2 separate regions of the Homo sapiens genome follow, and region 2 is linked to region 1. The links come from fine-mapping of genetic effects on gene expression. Tissue or cell type: whole blood. Region 1 holds a variant in brackets; the other region holds the start of a gene. All regions are shown on one strand. Distances are between the middles of the regions.

The links.
Region 2: FANCC starts here. The variant in region 1 is fine-mapped to the expression of FANCC in whole blood (TOPMed, PIP 0.96).

Annotation. Positions count from the first base shown.
Region 1 is chr9:95,295,068-95,300,453 of GRCh38, reverse strand. The region is part of intron 1 of FANCC (FA complementation group C); the gene reads left to right. Among named protein-coding and RNA genes, the nearest start is that of FANCC, 20 kb to the left of the region's middle. The variant A/C (reference allele first, on the strand shown) is at 2,880.
Region 2 is chr9:95,314,737-95,320,122 of GRCh38, reverse strand. FANCC (FA complementation group C) reads left to right here and starts at 2,414. Exons shown (of 15, transcript NM_000136.3): 1 at 2,414-2,597. RefSeq lists a silencer at 2,743-3,062.

The sequences.
Region 1 (5,386 bases):
ATTGTATTTATTTCCTACAGACTTCTTTTTCTTGGTTATCACCTGACATTGCCTTATCAGGTATTTTATTATGTATTTTATTCCTTTTTATTATTTTTGGCTTAAATTTTCCTTTTAGTCTTTTACTTGGATCATTCTTTCTTATTTTCTCCTCCATATTTTGGATTCTTCAGACTTCTTCCCTTTTCTTAATCTTACCATTACCAGATTTCCCTTCTGCTTAAATTTCATGATCCAGTTTTTCAGTGGATGGAGATAGAAGGCTGAGGTGAGGAAGGTGGGGGTAAATACGATACTTGCTGAATTTCAAATATAAAACAAGATATTAAGGAACTTATTTCCTTTTTTATTCCCTATATTTGGGAGACCATAGAATTGGCTGGCCGCTAATATCAAGTGGCTTTTGTGTGTAGACCCTTACAAAGAAATGACTGATAAAGTCCCTACTTCTGGGAGTTCTGATAGTAAAAAGTGTGACATCCATGACACATACATTGCCAGTCAATGATGGATAGAAATGGACAGACTTTGAGGAGATGAGTTTTGAGTATACAGAGATACCATTTTGTGTGTGTGTGTGTGCGCATGCATTTGAGACAGGGTCTCACTCTGTCTCCCTGCCTGGAGTGCAGTGATGCGGACATGGCTCACTATGGCCTCGACCTCCCAGGCTTAAACAATTCTCCCACCTCAGCCTCCCGTGTAGCTGGAACCACAGGCATGCGCCACCATGTCTGGCTAATTTTTTGATGTTTTGTAGAGCTGAGGTCTCACTATATTGCCCAGGCTGGTCTCGAACTCCTGGACTCAAGCGATCCTCCTTCCTCAGCCTCCCAAAGTGCTGGAATTACAGGTGTGAGCCACTGCAGGGCCGCAGAGATACAGTATATTTGTGATACCATTAGTAACTTTTATTTGACAGAGGGTTAAGTATTGACTAAGGGATAAAACCTATTCTGGGGCTTAGAAAACAAGGTTTTGCTCCAAGAAGGCGGTTAGATGTGGATAACGGTTTCAGTACTGAATTTGGAACCTTTTTACTAAAATGTAGTCTACATGTGGGTATCTAGCAATAGAGTCACTGTTAGTAAAGAACTATATATGTGACATACAGAGGAACCACATACAGTTTCTTAAAATAATATGTTCTTCATCTTTGAGGAAATCCTAGACAAAGCTGGAAAAATTTCAAGTTTTCTTATTGCTCATTACAAATTATAGGGATTTTGATATTGTGCAGTTAAAAGTTCAGTAGATTTTCAAAACTAGTTATTAATTGACCTCGGTTCTGCACATTTTTGTTGCTTTGCAAGAGTACCCTTAAGGCTCAAATAAAGTTAAAAGTAAGGTAAATGGTGTGTTAGACTAAAACTGTATTTTTTGTCTGTCAACACTTAAATAGAAAAACAAACTAGCTTAAGAACATGACTGCAATTTAGGATCTTAAAACCATATATACCGTAGTATTTTTAAAGCCTGCAACCAAAAAGTAGAATCATTGTGTTTTATAGCACTTTGAAATTCTGTCTGATGTTACTGTATGTCTGTGCTGTCCTGATATGGCTTTTGGATTGCGTTTGTGGTACAAGATTGATTTCTTGTATTTGTATATTACTTGGCTGCACAGATGGTATCCGCTTCAAATCTACTAAATAAAACTAGAACAATGATTTTGCCAGTTGGTTTTGACTGCTTTTATTTATTTTGGATGGCTGTAGTCTTTGTGAAGATGGCAGACTAAACCTGGAAGTGACAGCTAAGAACAGAATGGGTGGGCTACAGGTCTGCTAATTGATCTCAGCAGAACTCATGCTACTTCTCCCTGGGTACAAGACGTTTTCTTCAATTGAATGTTCACAGGCCAGCTGAGCCATCCTTTGCTCCCATATCTCTATTGTCCTTGGCCCAGACCTTTTCTCATCCTCCCTGGGTTATCTCATCCATTTCCATAGCTTTAGTTACTGTCTCTCTGTTGATGTTTCTACATCTATGTCTTCAGCTCAGGCCTGTTTCCTAACCTCTTCCTCACATACCCACTGCCTATTGGACCTCTTCATTTAGATGCCCCAGGTCTCTTGTACTCACCATGCCCTAAGCTGAGCCTATCTTTTTATCCAAGTATGTTCCTACTCCTTTGTTGCCCCTTTCAGTGTATGGTGGCATAACACATCTAGTTCTCTAATCAGAAACCTAAGCAACATCTTTACCTCCTCTCTATTCCTTTTTTTTACTATGTCTGATCTAAATACTAAATACTATGTGTTCTCCCTGATAAGCATCTCTTATCTGGGTGCTTTTCTCTATTCCTTCATGTGACTAGACTAGGCCTCAGTTACTGTAAGATGGTCTTCCATCTTACAGTATGATCTTGTCTCCCCTGGTGGTCCATTTTCTATATTGCTTGTGTGATTTTTCTGAAACAGAAATCTGAGTATATCACTTTAATGCTAAAAATCCTCCAGTGACTTACCTTTGCTCTTAGAATAAAGTCCAGAGTCCTTACTCTGTTTTGTAAAGTCCTTTTAAATCCATCTACTACTTGCTTGAGCAGGGTGACAGTCTTGGTAAAATGTACTTTTATAGCCAGAAGTCCCCCTCACACTTAACATATCATGATGCTTTCCTTTCTTGTGAGAAGCGAGAAATTTTATTGTGACATTTTGTCCATTAGTAAACCACACTCAGATCTGTGTGCCCCTCTTCCAAAAAATACATTATACATATTTCTACAAAGAGAGAAAACATGTAATAGTTGTCAGGTTCTTTTGAGAAATCCTTTTGTAGAAGTTATGCTTGGTGTTGTTTTAATGTTTTTATTACAAAGTAGAGAGCCTGTCTGATGAATCTTACACAAATAAAGTAATGGAGGTAATTAGATA[A/C]CACCACAGCCTTTCCTTTCTCTCCAGAAGAGGTAACAAGAGTCAGCATTCATTTGGAAGCAGTTGCCCAGACATGCCAACAGAAGTTGTGGGCATCTGTATCTCCTTCTAAGAAAGCGGGTTTCCTGAAAACCTTGGGAAAGGAAGGAAGAGAGGGACGGAGAGAGGGAGGGAAGATGCTATGTAGGTGGGCCAGTCACCAGCAGAGGGATAAAAAATGGTGAGATCAAAATATAAAAGCACGAGTAGTGTATTCCTTTGGCTGGCCTCTATCTCTAGATGCCCTAAAATGTTTATCTCCATTATTATAAGTCAGTGTAGATGCCTAGAGAAAGGAGGCATCCCTGATTTGGGCAGGATTCTAAACAATTGCCTTTTGTATTGTTAGTCTACACTTTGCTGAAAGTCCCTCTTGCCTCAGTCTGCTGTTCCCCTGGTGAGCCCCCACATATGGTTCAGTTCTCAGTGTCAGGTCTCTTTTTCTGGAAACTTTCCTCAACACCCCAAATCTGGGTTAAGTGCTCCACTTAGTCTGCTGTACTATGTAACACTTCTCACTCTGCAGTTTTAGTTTGTATTTTAAGTTCAGTGACTATGACTAATGTTATTGTTTGAAATGAAAGAGATTTTAAGAGTTTCTTCAAGAGGATTGACCAGAGTCCTGAGACATTTCTCCATTCCTAAATATATAAAAGCCATGAGTTGCCTTTGAACTTCATTACAATTTTGAAAATTTTTAGACATATCAAAGGTATTCTGTAGATGAGAGCTAGCCCGCTTCAATCCAGTTGTGACTATCTTGAGTGTGAATGTCAGTGTTCATGTTTGATGTTCTTTATTTTGGTGTATACTCTAGGTGTAAAGCCAGCCCAATATTGTCCCAACACATGACTGTGTTTGTTTGGCTAACTGAATACACCTTACCTGCCTTTTCTCCACTTTCTGTCTTCATATCGAAATCCATACACTTGAAATATTCTAATCCATTAGATATATGTAATTTCCTCATTTATGCTTTACTGAAACCCTGTTGGAAAATTCAAATTAATTACCCTTAGATTAAAAAAAAAAGCCTAACAAAGCTCTGTGGATTTGGTATGGGAACATATCAATAAATTTTTTAAAATAAAAACCACATAATTATTTTTAAAGACAACATTTATTTTCAGATCTGTTGAGTTTTTCCACCTATTTCTTCAAAGTTTTCCTTGTCATCCAAAGACATGACATTTGAGGATCTGTCTCTTTACTACTTTTCTATTTTTCAGGCAATGAAACCTCTTGTTACATTTAATTAGTGTGTCTAGGTCATGATCCTTAGTCATTTTAAATTGGAGTGTGATAGAGAGGTTTTAATATATTGTGCAGTAGATCCTTGATATTTTCAGATGTAAAAGGTTTGTTTTGATTTTTAAAATCACTTTATTGAGATATGATTGATATATAAAAAGTTGTACATATTTAATCTATAGAACTCAATGAGTTTGTGGATAAGTATATACCCATGAAGTTATCACCACCATCAAAACTGTAAACATACCCATCACCTCCCAAAGTTCCCCCTGCCTGTTTTGTTATTATTTTTTTGTGTATGGTAAGAACACTTAATATAAGCTCTACTCTTTTAGTACATTTTTACTATACAGCATAATATTGTTAGCCATGGGCACTATGCAATATAGTAGATCTCCAAAATTTACTTCTCTTTTAGGACTGAAACTTTGTACCTTTAACTATCACCTCTCAATTTCCCCTCCTGCCAGCCCCTGGCAACAGCCATTGTACTCTTTTTTTTTTTTTTTTTAATTGATACAGGGTCTCACTGTGTTGCCCAGGCTGGAATGAGTGGCGTGATCATAGCTCACTGTAGCCTCAACCTCCGGGGCTCAAGAGATCCTCCTGCTGTAGCCTCCTAAGTAGCCAGGACTACAGGCATGCGCCATCCTGCCTGGCTAATTTTTTATTTTGTACAGATGGGGTTTTGCTCTGTTGCCTAGGCTGGTCTCAAACTCTGGCCTCAGATGATCCTCTCTTATTGTGGTTTTGATGTGTATTTCCCTGATGATTACTGATGTTGAGCATTGTTTCAAATAACTGCTAGCCATTTGTTTGTCTTCTTTGAAGAAAAGTTGGTTCAGGTCCCTTTGACCATTTAAAAGATCAGGTTTTTTTGTTTTGCTTTGTTTTGTTTTGCTTTGTTTTGTTTTGTTTTGTTTTTTGTTTTGTTTTGGTATTGAGCTGTTTGAGTTCCTTATATAATATATTCTGGATATTAACACCTTCTCAGATGCATAGTTTGCAAATATTTTCTCCCATTCTGTAGGTTGTCTCTTCACGCTGTTATTTTCTTTGCTGTGAAGACATTTTTAGTTTGATGGATTTTTAGTTTGATGTAATTCCATTTGTCTGTTTTTGCTTTTATTGCTTTTGTGGTCTTATCCAAAAAATCTTTGCCCAGAAGACCAGTATTATGAAGCATTTTCTCTATGTTTTCTTCTAGTAGTTTC
Region 2 (5,386 bases), 20 kb before region 1:
TATTGCTTAAAATATTATTAAGATAGTTCCATGTATATGAATGCCAGGCAAAATGAATCCCTATAAATATAAGTTTGGATCTTTATGCTATATATGCTTCCTATTTAGGTCTAATTTAGGCCTAAACATGGTGTCATTTCATATACTGCAAAGTTGGATGAGCCTAGCAATTCTTTATTAACCACTGAACTAAAAAGACAGAAAACTGGGATATGGCAAGACATCAATCATTAACAAACACTAAAAATGATTTTTCAGCGAATATGTAAAAGGATGTGGGTACCAAAATAGATAATTTCTCTCAAGAAATACATACTTTAATTGCTTTCTTTGCTGATAAATGCAGAACTTAAACGTCAACTCACTCTCGATTTGTTACCACAGAGGTGACTTTCTCATGGTCAAGGTGCCACGATGAGTGCCCCTCAGGCATGTATTTCCCTACCCAGGACTTGCTTTTGATTTATCCATGTCACACTATGCACACATCAAAAACACATCGACCTCTCTGCTGTAAAACAGAACGAAATCATGTCCTTTGCAGCAACATGGATGGAGCTGGAGGACATTATCCTAAGTGAACAAACTCAGAAACAGAAAATCAAATATTGCATGTTCTCATAAGCGGGAGCTAAACAATAGGTATACATGTACATAAGAATGGGAATAACAAGACACTGGGGACTCCAAAAAGGGAGAGGGTGGGAAGGGGGTGAGGGCTGAAAAATTAGCTATTGGGTACAATGTTCAATGTTTGGGGGACAGGTACACCAGAAGCCCAATCCCCACCATTACACAATATACCTATGTAACAAGCAAGCACATGTACCCCCGAATCTAAAATTAAAAAACAATCAAAAAGCACCGACTTCCTTAACTGGCATGGAATAGTTTCGAGAATGGATGTAAACACCGAATTCCTTAATGTAGTTGCAGATTCTGCCAGTTTTGTCTCAACCTCTGGATCGGTTCCTTTTTTTAACTACCTTTAATTCTTAAACAGATTGTTGCTATTGCTATGCTATATACTTATTGTATCACTTATAAATGTATAACCTCTGCAAATTAGTCTCTGAATTGAAAGTATTCATTGGTAAAACGGGTATTTCTTCACCATAGGAATAGTTGGACATGTTTAAATACTTGAGAGCTATTTTTATTACAAGCACACACAGCTTTGTGGTGTTTTTTGTTGAGACAGAGTCTCGCTCTGTTGCCCAGGCTGGAGTGCAGTAGTGCGATCTTGGCTTACTGCAACCTTCGCCTCCTGGGTTCAAGCAATTCTCCTGCCTCAGCCTCCTAAGTAGCCGGGAGTACACACTAATTTTTGTATTTTTAGTAGAGACGGGTTTTTGCCATGTTGGCCAGGCTGGTCTCAAACTCTTGACCTCAGGTGATCCACCCGCCTCAGCTTCCCAAAGTGCTGGGATTAGAGGTGTGAGCCACCGCGCCCGGCCTGTAGTGTGTTTTTGAACGTATATGTGAAGTTGTAGCTTTTTTTTTTTTTTTTTTGAGACGGAGTCTCCCTCTGTCGCCAGGCTGGAGTGCAGTGGCGCGATCTCGGCTCACTGCAACCTCTGACTCCCTGGTTCAAGCTATTCTGCCTCAGCCTCCAGAGTAGCTGAGATTACAGGCGCCCGCCACCGCGCCCGGTTAAACGTTTTGTATTTTTAGTAGAGACGGCGTTTCACCATGTTGGCCAGAATGGTCTCGATCTTCTGACCTCGTGATCCGCCCGCCTTGGCCTTCCAAAGTGCTGGGATTACAGGCCTGAGACACAGCGCCCGACCTAAGCTGTAGTTTTATGATTATGATTTATGGTTGTGAGGCATTGATTTAAGACATTTTAAAGCTTAAGTCGTCAGATCCTAGAAGAAAAAAAAATTCACCAAGACAAGCTAATGCCATTGTCATAAATGGGAGTTTGGAGAAAATTTTATTAATATTTGTTTGGGTGGTTTATGTACAGCGTTGAACTGATTTGAACCCCGACCAAACACTGTATGGAACTAATGTACGGTAGGGGAAATCATTAACTGAAGATGCCTTTTTTGTTGCTATTGTTTAGAACGCAGTTAGAAAATCTTATTTTAGAGGTTTTACCCCGTTGACAAAGCCTCAACTTTTCTTCAAAAGAACTAATTTCCATTTTACCTCCCCTACATTTTGAACAGAATATGGAAGAAGCCAGCGCCCCTTCTCCGCGGGCGCTGCTGCAACCCTGCTCCCGCCGGGGCTTCCGCGCGAAACCGGGAACACTGGAGCAGTACCGACTCCGCTCGCCTAGAACCCGCCCCAGCCGGGCCCACTTCCGCCAGAGCCCTGGCCGCGCCCGCCCCGCCCCACGGACCCGAGATTCGTCGGAATTTTCCCGCGACGCCGCGGGAGCGCGCGGGGCCGCTAGCCAGGCCCCAGAATGCACTGCTGACACGTGTGCGCGCGCGCGGCTCCACTGCCGGGCGACCGCGGGAAAATTCCAAAAAAACTCAAAAAGCCAATACGAGGCAAAGCCAAATTTTCAAGCCACAGATCCCGGGCGGTGGCTTCCTTTCCGCCACTGCCCAAACTGCTGAAGCAGCTCCCGCGAGGACCACCCGGTAAGCGGCAGGCCGCAGAACGCAGCGAGGGCGGAGGCTTCCCTCGGGGGTCTGGCCGACACGTCAGCGGCGAGAGCGGGAGGAGGAGGCGAGGGGCAAGAGGGAAGGCTCGCGAGAGCGGGTGGGCCAGGCGCGCCTTGCGGTGGGCGAGAGGGGTTCCCGCCGGCGCAGGGCTGTGGCTAAGGCTGAGGCGGGAGGCGGGAGGCGGGAGGCGGAAGGTGGCGGGCGGTGCCAGCCCGCGGGGCGGGGCCAGGGCGGGGAAAGCGGGGGCGGGAGCCGGCGCTGGGGTCGCGCGGAAGGGAGCCCCCGGAGAGGCGGGAGCCGGGTGTTGGCGTTTTGGTTCTTTTTGTTCATTGAGCGCAGGCAGCTATGTCTTCTTCAAAGGAGAGGAGCAAAGGTGAATTTCTCTGCCTCGGACTCGTGGGAGCCGTGAAAAGCTCGCCCCTTTGAGCCGGTCGCCCTCTACAGCTGGCCTCGTCCTCCCCGTCCCTCACACCCCTGCCCCCAAACCCCATTCGCCGGGGCGCCAGGAGGGGCGAGGTCCAATTAGAGGAGCCCGGGGCGCGGCTGTTACCCCTCCCGCCCTCCGCCTTTTATTCCCGGAGGGAGGCGGGTTCGCAGAGGCCAGTGTCTTCCCTCCATTCTTTTTGTGGACGCCAGGCCATATCTTCAAAGCCCGTGAGAGATTTTTCAGGTGCTGTTTGTTGGTTTGCTCTTTTTAATTTTTTAGGTGGGTGCGTTTACAACTACGAACCCTCTATGATCTTATGTGTCCAGCGCACCGAATGGGGGAAAAGACTTGGAGTTTTATAACATGGGAAATTGGGTACCAGAATCTTAAGGGAAGAGACCAAGGAGTTTTCTAGCAAAGTCCTGTATGTGCCTGGACTTTTGTTCTAATCTGAAACTTGGAAAACTCCCGGGCATCTGATTTTATTCTAACTTGTGCCCCATTTAATGCATCTAAACTGTGATGTGATTTGACTTAGCATTTATCAAATGAGCAGAGCACTTTTGGGCCACCCAACTTCAGCTCTTTGTGGCTGTCACTCACTGTCAGTGATATGCCCTCAGACAGATCGTTTTCTCCTTACTCCCCTGAAAGGTTGTTACAAACAGTAGAATTCATACCATGTGTTGAGATCATTCATTACCTAAGCTTAGATGGAAAACATGTTCATTGCGACTTTATACATTAAACTTGAATTGATGTTTCAATGTTATGTGCTGTACCAGAGTCACCTGGAAATAAGCACTCATATACATTATTCATATACAAGAAAGGCTGCATCGAAAAAGAATTTGTTTTCCTAGATATATCAGAGATCTTTTTCACCAACCCACTACTCCCAGTAATAGAGCCTGCTTCTTGAGAACTGGACTAATTATACTTTGTATATTATACATTCGAATTTATTTTTGCTTTATTCGGTCATATTTTCTCTTGATTTCTCCAAAAACGTTTACCAAGGCATCAGAAAAGAAAAGCAGGCTCTATATTGGTATTTTTTGTTTTGTCCTCTAATAAAAAGCATTAACTTGATTGATTGGCTGGTTGTGGAAGATGTGTTGCTGCATGTATGTGCAACTGTGCATGTACATTTTAAAACAAATGGTACTTTTAACCAGTTCCATATTTCAGCAGGTAGTTCCAATAACAATTATACAAATTTCGTGTTTATGAGAACCAGCTACAGGGAGGCCAGCCTGGCCAGTAGAAAGTTGGATTGATTATCTGGGCCATGGAGAGAGCCAGAGGAAACTCACATGAGTGGTAGTTCCAAGTTGGTAGTGTTAGGGCCTCAAATCGGGCTGGAAATGAGCACCAAATGATTTTTAAAAGTTTTATTTTAGGCTGGGATATGTGCATTCTCTGTCTTGTTTGTGGATCTTGAGTGATTGACTTAATGTGAAAAAATACATACAGGAGAAGCACCTTGGAAGTTTTGCAATGTTTTAATAAAAATGCAGAAGTGGAGAAGGAAAGGCAATTCAGATAACAGGCAGAGCATGGTGGCTTATGCCTGTAATCCCAGCACTTTGGGAAGCGGAGGCGGAAGGATCACTTGATCCCAGGAGTTCGAGTCCAGCGTGGGCAACAGAGAGAGCCCTGTCTCTACAAAAAGTTAAGAAATTAGCCGGCCATAGTGATGCGGGGCTGTGGTCCCAGTTACTCGGGAGGCTGAGGTGGAGGATCACCTGAGTTCAGGAGGTCGAGGCCACAGTGAACTGTGATTGCGCCACTGCACTCCACACTGGGCAGCAGACTGAGACCGTGTCTGGAAAAATAAAATTGGTAACAATTCAGATTGGCCACCAGAGTTGGACTGGGGGCTAGCAGGCAATGGTTTTACCTCCATTTTGAGATTGGCATCTTCTAACTCAAGTTTAATACGGGACTGAGGGTAAGAGACCTGCATGCCTTTTATGTCAGCATTACATTATCTTGATTATGGCAGCTTTATAGTAAGTTTTGAAATTAAGTAGTGTAAGTTATCCAATGTTTTTCTTCATTTTCAAAATTGTTTTGGCGGTTCAGGGTTCCTTACATTTCCATATAAATTTTAGTATCAGTTTGTTATTTTTTTTCAGAAAACCGTGCTGTGATAGACTTTGTAGGAATTGCATTTAATTTTGCATATCTATTTGGGGGAGAATTGCCATCTCATCATGAACATGGAATCTCTTTCCATTTGTTGAGCGCTTTAATTTCTCTTAGCAGTATTTAGTAATTTTCAGTGTACAAATTTTGCCCTTTTGTAAATTAATTTTGAAGTTTTATTTTTGAT